2 separate regions of the Homo sapiens genome follow, and region 2 is linked to region 1. The links come from fine-mapping of genetic effects on gene expression. A gene starts in region 1. The other region holds a variant in brackets. All regions are shown on one strand. Distances are between the middles of the regions. Region 1 holds the start of ATG101 (autophagy related 101). Region 2 overlaps SMIM41 (small integral membrane protein 41).

Evidence for each region. PIP is the estimated chance that this variant, and not a neighbour inherited with it, causes the effect. A credible set is the group of variants that fine-mapping cannot tell apart.
Region 2: its variant is the best candidate, but not a certain one, in a credible set for the expression of ATG101 in lymphoblastoid cells (TwinsUK, PIP 0.54).

Annotation. Positions count from the first base shown.
Region 1 is chr12:52,067,804-52,073,188 of GRCh38, forward strand. It overlaps ATG101 (autophagy related 101), which reads left to right and starts at 2,175. Exons shown (of 4, transcript NM_021934.5): 1 at 2,175-2,439; 2 at 2,551-2,680. RefSeq lists enhancers at 1,641-1,930, 1,808-2,523.
Region 2 is chr12:52,097,686-52,103,070 of GRCh38, forward strand. The region is part of intron 2 of SMIM41 (small integral membrane protein 41); the gene reads left to right. The region is part of intron 2 of SMIM41-AS1 (SMIM41 antisense RNA 1); the gene reads right to left. It also overlaps the pseudogene OR7E47P. Among named protein-coding and RNA genes, the nearest start is that of SMIM41-AS1, 18 kb to the right of the region's middle. The variant AG/A (reference allele first, on the strand shown) is at 2,130.

The DNA of each region.
Region 1 (5,385 bases):
TAGGCTGGTCTCGAACTCATGACCTCAAATGATCCACCTGCCTCGGCCTCCCAAAGTGCTGGGATTACAGGCGTGAGCCACCATGCCCGGCCCAATTTCTTATCTATATTGCAGGATTGATTAGTATCAGGTTTAAATTTATATGTACACATATATGGTATTTAAAATCATGACCTTTCCATTCCACCTAATAAATGTTATCTATTATCGTTTTGGGAAATAAAAGCATGTGTTAGAAAAATCAGCTTTTTTTTTTTTTTTGAGACAGGGTTTCTCTCCGTTGCCCAGGCTGGAGTGCCGTGGTGCAGTCTCAGCTCATTGCAACCTCCACCTCCCAGGTTCAAGCAATTCTTCTGCCTCAGCCTCCCAAGTAGCTGGGATTACAGGTGCCTGACACCACACCTGGCTTTTTTTTTTTTTTTGTATTTTTGGTAGAGATGAGGTTTCACCATATTGGCCAGGCTGGTCTCAAACTCCTGACCTCGAGTGATCCATCAGCCTCGACCTCCCAAAGTACCGGGATTACAGGCATGAGCCATCACACCCGACTTTTTTTTTTTTTTCTTTTTGAGACAGGATCTTGTTTTGTCATTCAGCCTGCAATGCAGTGGCGTGATTATAGCTCACTGCAGCTTCAACCTCCTGGGCTCAGGTGATCCTCCACCTCAGCCTCTGAAGTAGCTGGGACTACAGGGGTACACCAACACGCCCAGCTAAATTTTTAATTTTTATTTTAAAGATGGGAGTCTCACTATGTCGACCAGGCTGGTCTTGAACCCCCGGCCCCAGGTGATGCTCTGTCCTAAGCCTTCCAAAATGTTGGGATCACAGGCGTGAGGCACCCCAATGGGCCAGAAAATGAGCATGGTAATCCCCAGCTAACACCTTAAGAATGCCTCCTGGCCGGTCGCGGTGGCTCACGCCTGTAATCCCAGCACTTTGGGAGGCCGAGGCGGGCAGATCACGAGGTCAGGATATCGAGACCATCCTGGCTAACACGGTGAAAACCCGTCTCTACTAAAAAAAATACAAAAAAAATTAGCCGGGCGTGGTGGTGGGCGCCTGTAGTCCCAGCTACTCGGGAGGCTGAGGCAGGAGAATGACGTGAACCCAGGAGGCGGAGCTTGCAGTGAGCCGAGATAGCGCCACTGCACTCCAGCCTGGGCGACAGAGCGAGACGCCGTCTCAAAAAAAAAAAAAAAAAAAAAAAAAAAAAAAATACTGCCTCCTATTGGAGGTGGGTGCATTAACCGAGCTCTCGAAGCCCTGTCTGCTCTGGGCTTACAATCTACATGGAGAACCAAATGCGCTCCAGGAAGTTACACAGCACTAAAAATACACTTGTATTCATATTAGACTTTACAGGTCACAGAAATCTTTCATATGAGTTATCTCCTGTGATCCTCACAACAGCCACCTGTTTATAGAGAGCATCAGAAAGGATGAGTGATGTTGAGGGTCACGCAGAGAAGCAATGGCCGAATTACTAGCCTCCGAAGGACTGTCACCAGATTGGTCACCATGGGGTATCAAGTAGTGCTGCTGCATAAAGGCAACACTGAGAGATGAAGCCCCTTTCTCCAGCATCTGTGTGGGTGGAGGGCCAGGGATCCCGTCTGTTACGCACATTCAACAAACTCAAGTTTTGCCATCCACTGGGCGTCCTGCAGTACAGCGGTGTGGGCTCATCTCCAGGACCTCTCTCTACGGGGTACGCCCCTCATCTTGCGGTGATCAGTGTTCCTTCCAGACCTCTCAGTCCGGACTGAGTTGGGCACCGCGTCAGCGTCTCCCGGCCAGGCTCGCCGCCGATGACTCCGCTCGGCCTAGGGAGGCGGCCGAGAGCCCGTAGGGCTCCTCCTTCCCTCCAGTCTCTATGGCGGAAGTGAGTTGTACGGGCCGAAACACCACAGCGTTCTCGGTGGTGGGCTGAATGGACTCGTCCACATGAGGGGGATCTTCATCACCATCAACTCTTAAAATCCGAGACATAACCACGAAAGGAGCAGCCCCCAGATCAGAGAGCAACGCATGACTATCTGCGTGTGCTTCTGTGACTACGCGGATGTTGTGGGCGGCTACATGCGTGCGGGGGCCCGGCGAGCTGGGCAGGTGCCCCCTCCGGGGCCGTGGGATCTGGTGAGCTTCCCGGCGCGCGGGGGGCGGTGCGGCTTCCGGTCCCGGCTCAGCCTCCGACCCAGGTGGTCTGGAGCCTGCCGGGAGAGTGGTGGCATCTGAGAGGCTGGTCGTGGACTGTGGTTGGGGGAGGTGGGAGCTGTTTTAACCGTGTGCCCCCTCTCCTGTGCCGGCGTGGGCATCCCCCGGGGCAGTGGAACGCGGGCGCTCCTCCAGCTTCCGAGTCCAGCCAGCCTGGGCGCGGGGCGCCGCCCCCGAGACACCCGAGGAGTCCGTTCCTCCCTGGTTACGTGGACTGTGGAGGTTCGCGCGTAGTGGCGGCGGGGGATACGGGACCCGGGCGGGAATTCCTTCCTGCGTCCGTCCCGAGTCTCTTGATATGGAGCCAAGTAAGTTTTCTGGTTTTGCTTTTAGCTGGTCTCTTGTGGCTCAGCGCCGTGCGGAGGTTGAAGCGTACCTGCGGAGGTCGCACCAGGGCGTGAGGAGGAGGAGGAAGGGCATGAGCCGAGCTTGAGGAATCCGTGCTCCAAACTCTACACTCAAGGTGGGAATGGGCGCACCCTGTGCTCCAGCCAGGCTTGAGAAGGCGGCTGTTAGCCTCTGCCACTCGGGGGGACAAGAGGGACGAGACTTTCCAGACCCTACTCTGGTGGGCCCTGCTTGCTCACTGCTCACTGTGTGGGGCAGGGGACAACAAGGTTTTCACAGACCAAATGTGGCAGCTGTGGGAAGGAGAATGGGGTTGGTCAGGACTGACTTCTTGGAGGAGTGGATCCTAAAATAGCACGTAGAATGAGGGAGGAGCCCAGGCTTGGGGCACAAGTGAGATGTGTGGCTTGTGTGAACGATTGCGGGGGACACAAGAGGGAGAAGTCGTGGAAGAAAGGGAGCCGGACCAGAGCCGGGAGTCTCTAGATGGGAAGAAAACTGCTGGATGGAGTAAAACTGGAGGGCAAAACGAGCAAGAGAGCCCTTCTCCTTCTTGATCCAAGCATGTAGGAGAAACTAATCCAGCAACCCCTGGAAGAACCTGGAATTCCTGGGTTGGGCTCAATTGAGCAGTTGTTTTGTAGAAGGTACTAGGAATTACCATTATAGTGATGAATGGAATATAGTCTCTGCCCTATAAGCAGAATATAGGAATTGTTTGCCTAGTGGTAGAGACAAAAACAAAACGTGATGGTGCTTGATAGTACAGGTAGACGCGAGCTGATCGCCAGCTGAGAGGCAGAGCTGGCCTGATCTCTGTGCGGTCCACAGACCGTTGCCCTGTATCCTGTGCTGAGCAACAGTTTAAAAGGGGCAGACACAAACTGAAATATACTTTTTATATTCACCATCTGTCAACCAGATGAGTGAAATATACTTAGAGGAGAGCTGCTAGGATTCCATGCAGATAAGATGTGATGTGGAACAGACATGTTTTTGAGGACTGGGGACCTTCAGCCTGTAGAAGGGGTGAGGGGGTGGTGGAATAGCTGCCCCTAAATAAAAACTCACTTGTGGAAAAGAGGTGAGACTTATTTTGTGTGGCTTTGGGTACCAAAACTAAAACTAAAAGTGGTTTGAAGCACTAAGAGACAGATTCTTCAGCAGAAAGAATAACTGGACTGGGTGCGGTAATCCCAGCACTTTGGGAGGCCGAGGCGGGTGGATCTCTTGAGCTCAGGAGTTCGAGACCAGCCTGGGTAACATGGCAAAACCCTTTCTTTACCAAAAATACAAAAAATTAGCCAGGTGTGGTGGTGTTCGCCTGTGTTCCCAGCTGCTTGGGAGGCTGGGATGGGAGCCTGGGAGGCAGAAGTTGCAGTGAGTAGAGATTGTGTCACTGTATTGCAGCCTGGGTGATGGAGTGAGACCCCATTTCATAAATAAAATAAATAAATAAATCAGAATAACTGAATAGAACTTCCTGAACATTGACTGGTTGTTGTGAGAGCTAGTGAATTCCCAGTCAGGGGAGGTTTGCAAGCTGAATACTCTGAGTTATAAGGAACTTGAAGCTCCCTCTCCCTCTGGGCATGTATTTAGTTATTATGTTCTAGTTCTCAAGTCTCTTGTTCTCTCCTTCCTACTCTCTCTACCACTGCTGTGTTATAGCCTTGCATCATCTCTTGGCAGTAACAATGTAATAATGAATTATAGCAGCTAATACTTAGTGGATATTTACCATTTGTCAGGTACTTATTTAAGTGTTTTATACATGCTAGCTCATTCAGCCCTCAACCCTTTCAAGGTAGCCATTATTATCTCTTTTGTATATGTGGCAGATAGGTGTTAAGCAGCTTGCCCAAGATCATGAGCATGGAGCAAGTGGCAGAGCTGGGGTTCCATTCCAGGTTGTCTGGCTTTCAAGTCATCGTTTTCAACCACTATTCTACTGTATTTTACATGTGTTACCTTAATTCTCACTACTATCCCCATTTACAGATAAGAAGTTCAGAGAGGTTGAGTGATTCGCTTAAGGTCATAGAGCAAGATGTAGATGAGGTGGGATTCAAACCCAGGACTGTAGGACATGAAAAACCGCCCACACCTGATTATGCTGCTTCTGTAACTACATCTACTGTAGTGGTCTTTAACTGACTTCCGTGCCCAGCCTTTGTGCCTTAAATCCACAAGTTTTTACCCTGGAGTCTGTGGATGTGGGTGTCTCTAGAAATAGGTGAGATTTGGTATATGTGTGTGTGTGAGAGTCATGTTTTTAAAGCCCAGTCTTCATGGCTTCATTCACTTCTCAGAGCAGTTTGTGACCCCAATACGGTTTAGAGCCATTCTTTGCCCTTTAGCCAAAGGTACTTGTCTTTTTTTTTTTAAATTTATTTTATTACTTTGTATTTTTGTTTTTTTTGAGACAGGGTCTCGCTTTGTCACTCAGGCTGGAGCACAGTGGCATGATCTCAGCTCACTGCAGCCTCAGCCTCCCACATTTAAGTTATCCTCCTGCCTCAGCCCCTCAAGTAACTGGGACTACAGGCGCCTGCCACCAGGCCCAGCTAATTTTTTATATTTTTGGTAGAGATGGGGTTTTATCATGTTTCCCAGGCTGGTCTTGAACTTTTGAGCTCAAGTGATTTGCCTCGGCCTCCCAAGTTGCTGGGATTAATGTGAGCCACCACACCCGGCCTAGAGGTACTTTTTTGATGCACAGATTTGATCTTGGCTTAGTGATGCATTGACTCTTCGCTGCTTTTAGGACAGAGTCCAAATGCCTTAACCTGTTCATTCAAGGTCCCAGGAAATCAGACT
Region 2 (5,385 bases), 30 kb after region 1:
ATTCCCCCTTCCATATGGGAGTCATATGATACTTGCCGTCCATATATTAAGAACAATACCAAAGCGGGGATGGACACTTTGACGATATTGGGAGTAACATCATTCTCTCTACCCCTGGATATTAGTAGCAATATCACAGGGGGGATGTACATTTCTTGTGATATAGAGAGTAGTAGTATTTTCTTCCCCGCTGGATATTAAAACCAATACCACAAGGGGCATCAAACCACCTGCCAAATTCGAAGGAATGTTATCCTCTCCCCCGCCCCCGCCCCCGGATATTAGAGACAATAACACAGGGGTAACGTACACCCACTGCTTTATTGGGAGAAGTATCATCCTCTCCCTTCTTGGATATTAGGAGCAATATCACAGTGTGCGTGTACGCCTGTCGCGAAATTCAATGGAATGTCATCCTGTGCCTCCCTGGATATGACGAACAATGTCACGGGGGATGTACAACTTCTGAGATATTGGGAGTGATATCATCCTCTCCCCTCTGGAAGTTAGGGACAATATCACAGGGGTAGTGTACACCCTCTGTGATGTTGGGACTAATATCATCCTCCCGTCCCCTGGATATTAAAAACCATGTCACAAGGGGCGTGTACACACACTTCGATATTGGTATTAATACCATCCTCTCCCTCTTTGGATATTCAGTGCACTATTTCAGGTGGGGTATACACCACCTGCAATATTGGAAGTAATATGATTTTCTCCCCCCTGGATATTAGAAACAATATCACAGGGGGTGTGAACAACCCCTGCGATATTTGGAGTAATATCATCGTCTCCCCTCATGAATATTAAGAACAATATCGTGGGGGGGGGGGGACGTACACCCCGTTTGATATTTGATATCATCCTCTTCCCCCCTGGATATTGGAACAATATCAGGAAGGGATGTACAGACCCTGTGACATTTGCTGTCATCTAATTGTCTCTCCCCTAGATATTAGGAAAAATGTAACCGGGGATGTGAACACCCCTGCGATATTGGGAGAAGTATCATCCTCTCCCCCCTTGTATATTAGGAACAATATCACGGGGGGGGGGGTGTACTGCCTCTGCGATATTGGGAGTAAAATTATCCTCTCTTCCCTTGGATATTAGGAAGGGTATCAGAGGGGGAGGGTGTACATTCCCTGTGATATTCAACGTAATCTTAGCCTCTCCCTCCCAGGGTATTCAGAACAATATTACAGGAGGGGTGTACACCCTTTGCGATATTGAGAGTCATATCATCCTCTTTCGCTCTGGATATTAGGAACAATATCACAGGGTTGTGTACACCCCCTGCGATATCGGGAGTAATATCATCTTCTCTCTCTCTGGATATTAGGAAGAGTATCACAGGCTGTGTACACCCCCTGCAATATTGGGAGTAGTATCCTCTCTCCCTCTGGATATGAGGAAGAGTTTCACAGGGATGTGTGTACCCCCTGCGATATTGGGAGTAATATCATCCTGTCGCCCTCTGGATATTAGGAAGAGTTTCACAGGGGTGTGTACACTCCCTGCAACATGAGTAGTAATATCATCCTGTGCCCCCTGGATGTTAAAAACCAAATCACGGGGATTGTACACCTGCTGCGATATTGGGAGTAATATCTTCCTCTCTCTGCCTGGATATTAGAAGTAATATCACGGGTGGTTTACATCCCCTGCGATATTGGGAGTAATATCATCCTCTCTCCCCCTGGATATTAGGAACAACATCACAGGGGGGTGTCCACCTCCTGGGATATTGGTGTAAAACCCCCTGTGATATTAGGAGCAATATCATCCTCTCGCCCTCTGGATATTAGGAACAGTATCACGGGGTGGGGGGTGTACATCCGTGCGATATTGAAAGTAATATCCTCTCCTCCACGGTTTTTAGAAATGAAATCACAGTGGGTTGTACAGCTGGTGCGATATTGGTAGTGATATCGTTCCCTCCTTCCCTGGATATTAGGAACAACATTACAAGGGGGTTGTATACTACCTGCGATATTTGGAGTAATATGATTCTTTGCCCACCTGGATATTAGGAACAACATCATGGCGTGGGGGTCGTGGAAAACCCCGGCTATTTTGAAAGTATCATCCTCTTTTTCCCTGGATACTATGAACAATATCACAGG[AG/A]GGATGTGCACCTTCTGCGATATTGGGAGTAATATTATCCTCTCCCGCCCTGAATATTTAGAAAAATATCACAGTGGGGTGTACACCCTGGTGATATTGGGAGTAATATCATCCTCTCCACCCAGGAAATTACTAACAAGGTCACGGGGGGTTGTGTACTACCCCTGAGATATTGGGAGTAATGACATCCTCCCCAAACCTGGATGTTAGCAACAAGATAACAGAGGGGGTGTACACACCCTGTGATATTGGAAGTAATATGATCCTCTCCCCCCCCGGATATTGGGAAAAATATCAAGCGCGGGTATACATTTCCTACGCTGTTGGGAGTAATATCATTCTTTTCCTCTCTGGATATCAGGAACAATATCACAGGGGTAGTGTACATTTCCTTCGATATGGGGAGTAATATCATCCTCTCCCCGCTGGGATATTAGGAACAATATCCCAGGGGGGTGTCCACCCTCTGCGATATTGGGAGTAATATCATCCTCTGTTTCCTTGGATATTAGACACAATATCACAAAAAGGTGTACACCCCCTGCAATATTGGGAGTAATATCATACTCTCCTTCCCTGGATATTAGAAAACAATATCATCGGGGTGAACAACCCCTGCGAGAATGGGAGTAATATTTTCTTTCTTTTTTTTTTTTTTGAGGCAGAGTTTCACTCTTGTTGCCCAGGCTGGAGTGCAATGGCACAATCTCGGCTCACTGCAACCTCTGCCTCCCGTATTCAAGCGATTCTCCTGTCTCAGCCTTCTGAGTAGCTGGGATTACAGGCATGCGCTACCGCGCCCAGCTATTTTTTTTTTTTTTTTTTTTTTGTATTTTTAGTAGAGACAGTGTTTCTCCATATTGGTCAGGCTGGTCTTGAACTCCCGACCTCAGGTGATCCACCCACTTCGGCCCCCCAAAGTGCTGGGATTACAGGCGTGAGTGACCGCGCCCAGCCACCACTTAGCATTTTCATTTTACATTTGTTGAAGTTATAGATTGATACATTGATTGCTGCTTTATTACATACACTTGCATATACATAAAATGGGAAGTAGAAAAGAATAAAATGGGCACAGTATCCCTAAAGTTTCGCATTCTGAGACATTTTAAAAATATTTGCTTTTTAGAAATTTGTTTCAATTAAGAAACTATGGTATACACACATAATGAAGTATTATTCAGCCTAAAAAGGAGTAAAATCCTCTCCACTGCAGAAAAAAATGGATGAGATTACAGGTCTGTATATTAAGTGAAATAAGCCAGGCACAGCATGACAAATATTACATGTCCTCACTTATACGTAGGAACAAAAAAGAAAATCTTGGCCAGGTGTGGTGGCTCAGGCCTGTAATCCTAGCACTTTGGGAGGCCGAGTCACACGGATCACTTGAGGCCAGGAGTTCGAGACCCTCCTGGCCAACATAGTGAAACCCCCGTCTCTACTAAAAACACAAAAAATTAGCCGGGTGTGGTGACGTGTGCCTGTAGTCTCAGCTACTCGGAAGGCTGAGGCCCAAGAAGCACTTGAACTCGGGAGGCGGAGGTTGCAGTGAGCCCGGATTGTGCCTGTATACTCCAACCTGGGCAACAGAAAGAGACTCCATCACACACCTACACACAAAAGGAATCTCAGGAAGGTGGAGAGTATAAAGGGGGTTAGCAGACGCTAGGAAGAAAAGGGGTGGGATGGGGAATGAAGAGAAGTGGATAATTGGGTCCCAAAATACAGAAAGATGGAATAAGTGAGTTCTAGTGTTTGATAGTACAGTATGAAAATTTAACTCACAAGAATTTCTTGCATATTTCCAGACGCTTTGGTAAGAAGCTTCCTAACTTTCTCATTATGCTGGTTTTTAAGCTCTTCTCTTTCTGCTCTTGAAATCATGCTGTTTTTTTGTTTTTTTTTTGTTTTGAGATGGAGTTTCGCTCTTGTTGCCCAGGCTGGAGTGTAGTGGTGCAGTCTTGGCTCACCGCAACCTCTGCCTCCTGGGTTCAAGTGATTCTCCTGCCTCCACCTCCCGAGTAGCTGGGATTACAGGCATGCGCCAGCACACCCAGCTAATGTTGTATTTTTAGTAGAGACGGGGGTTTTTCCCTGTCGGTCAGGCTGGTCTTGAACTCCTGACCTCAGGTGATCCGCCCACCTCGGCCTCCCAAAGTGCTGGGATTACAGGCGTGAGCAACTGCGCTCGGCCCATGCTGTATCTTTATCTGTTGTCTCTTGCTGTTTGTTTGTTTTTGAGCCCAGAAATAACTTCTCACCTATATGTTCAAGTGATTTTTAACATGAGTGCTAAGAAAGTTCATTGGTGGAAAAGCAGCCTTTTCAAGAAATGGTGTTGGAGAAACTTGATCTCCACATGCAGAAGAATGAAGGTGGACCCTATGTCACACCAGGTGCAAAAATTAACACAAACTGGATCAAAGACCTCACCCCAAGTGCTAAAAGTATAATATGCCTAAAAGAAAACATTGGCCACACTTTCATGACATCAGATTGGGCAATGCTTTCTGGGATGTGACACCAAAAGCATAGGCAACAAAAGAAAATTAGATTCCTTGGATTACATCTAAATGACAGACACTTTTGTACATCAAAAAACACTGTGAACTGAGTGAAAAGATAACCCGTGGATTAGGAAAAATATTTGCAAATCATATATCTGAAAAGAGGCTGATATCCATCATATATAAAGAACAGCCAGAACTAAACAACAAGAAACCCAAAGCATCCCATTAACAATGGTCAGAAGATTTGAGTAGACATGTCCCTAAAGAAGATATAGCAATGGCCAATAAACATCTAAAGTGATGTTCAAATCACTAATCATAGGGAAGCACAAATCAAACCAATAATGTGATACCACACATTAGGATGGATATGATAAACAAGCATTGGTGAAACGAGAGGGAAGTAGGAATGCTCGAATATGATTGGAGGGAATGTAAAACCATGAAGGAACAGGGAAAATAGTATGGCGTGTACTGGAAAAATTAGAAACAGAATCATCAGATGTTCCCGCAGTTGCACTTGTGGGTTCCTACCAAAAAGAATTAGAAGCCAGGAGTGGAAGAGATATTTGTACACCCATATTCATAGCAGCATTATTCACAACAGCCAAAATGGGGAAGCAACCCAAGGGTTCGTGGACAGATGAATGAAAAAACACGCTGCAGTGCATTCATACAATGGAAGACTATTCAGCCTTAAAAAGGCAGGCACTTCTGGCCGGTGCGGTGGCTCATGCCTGTA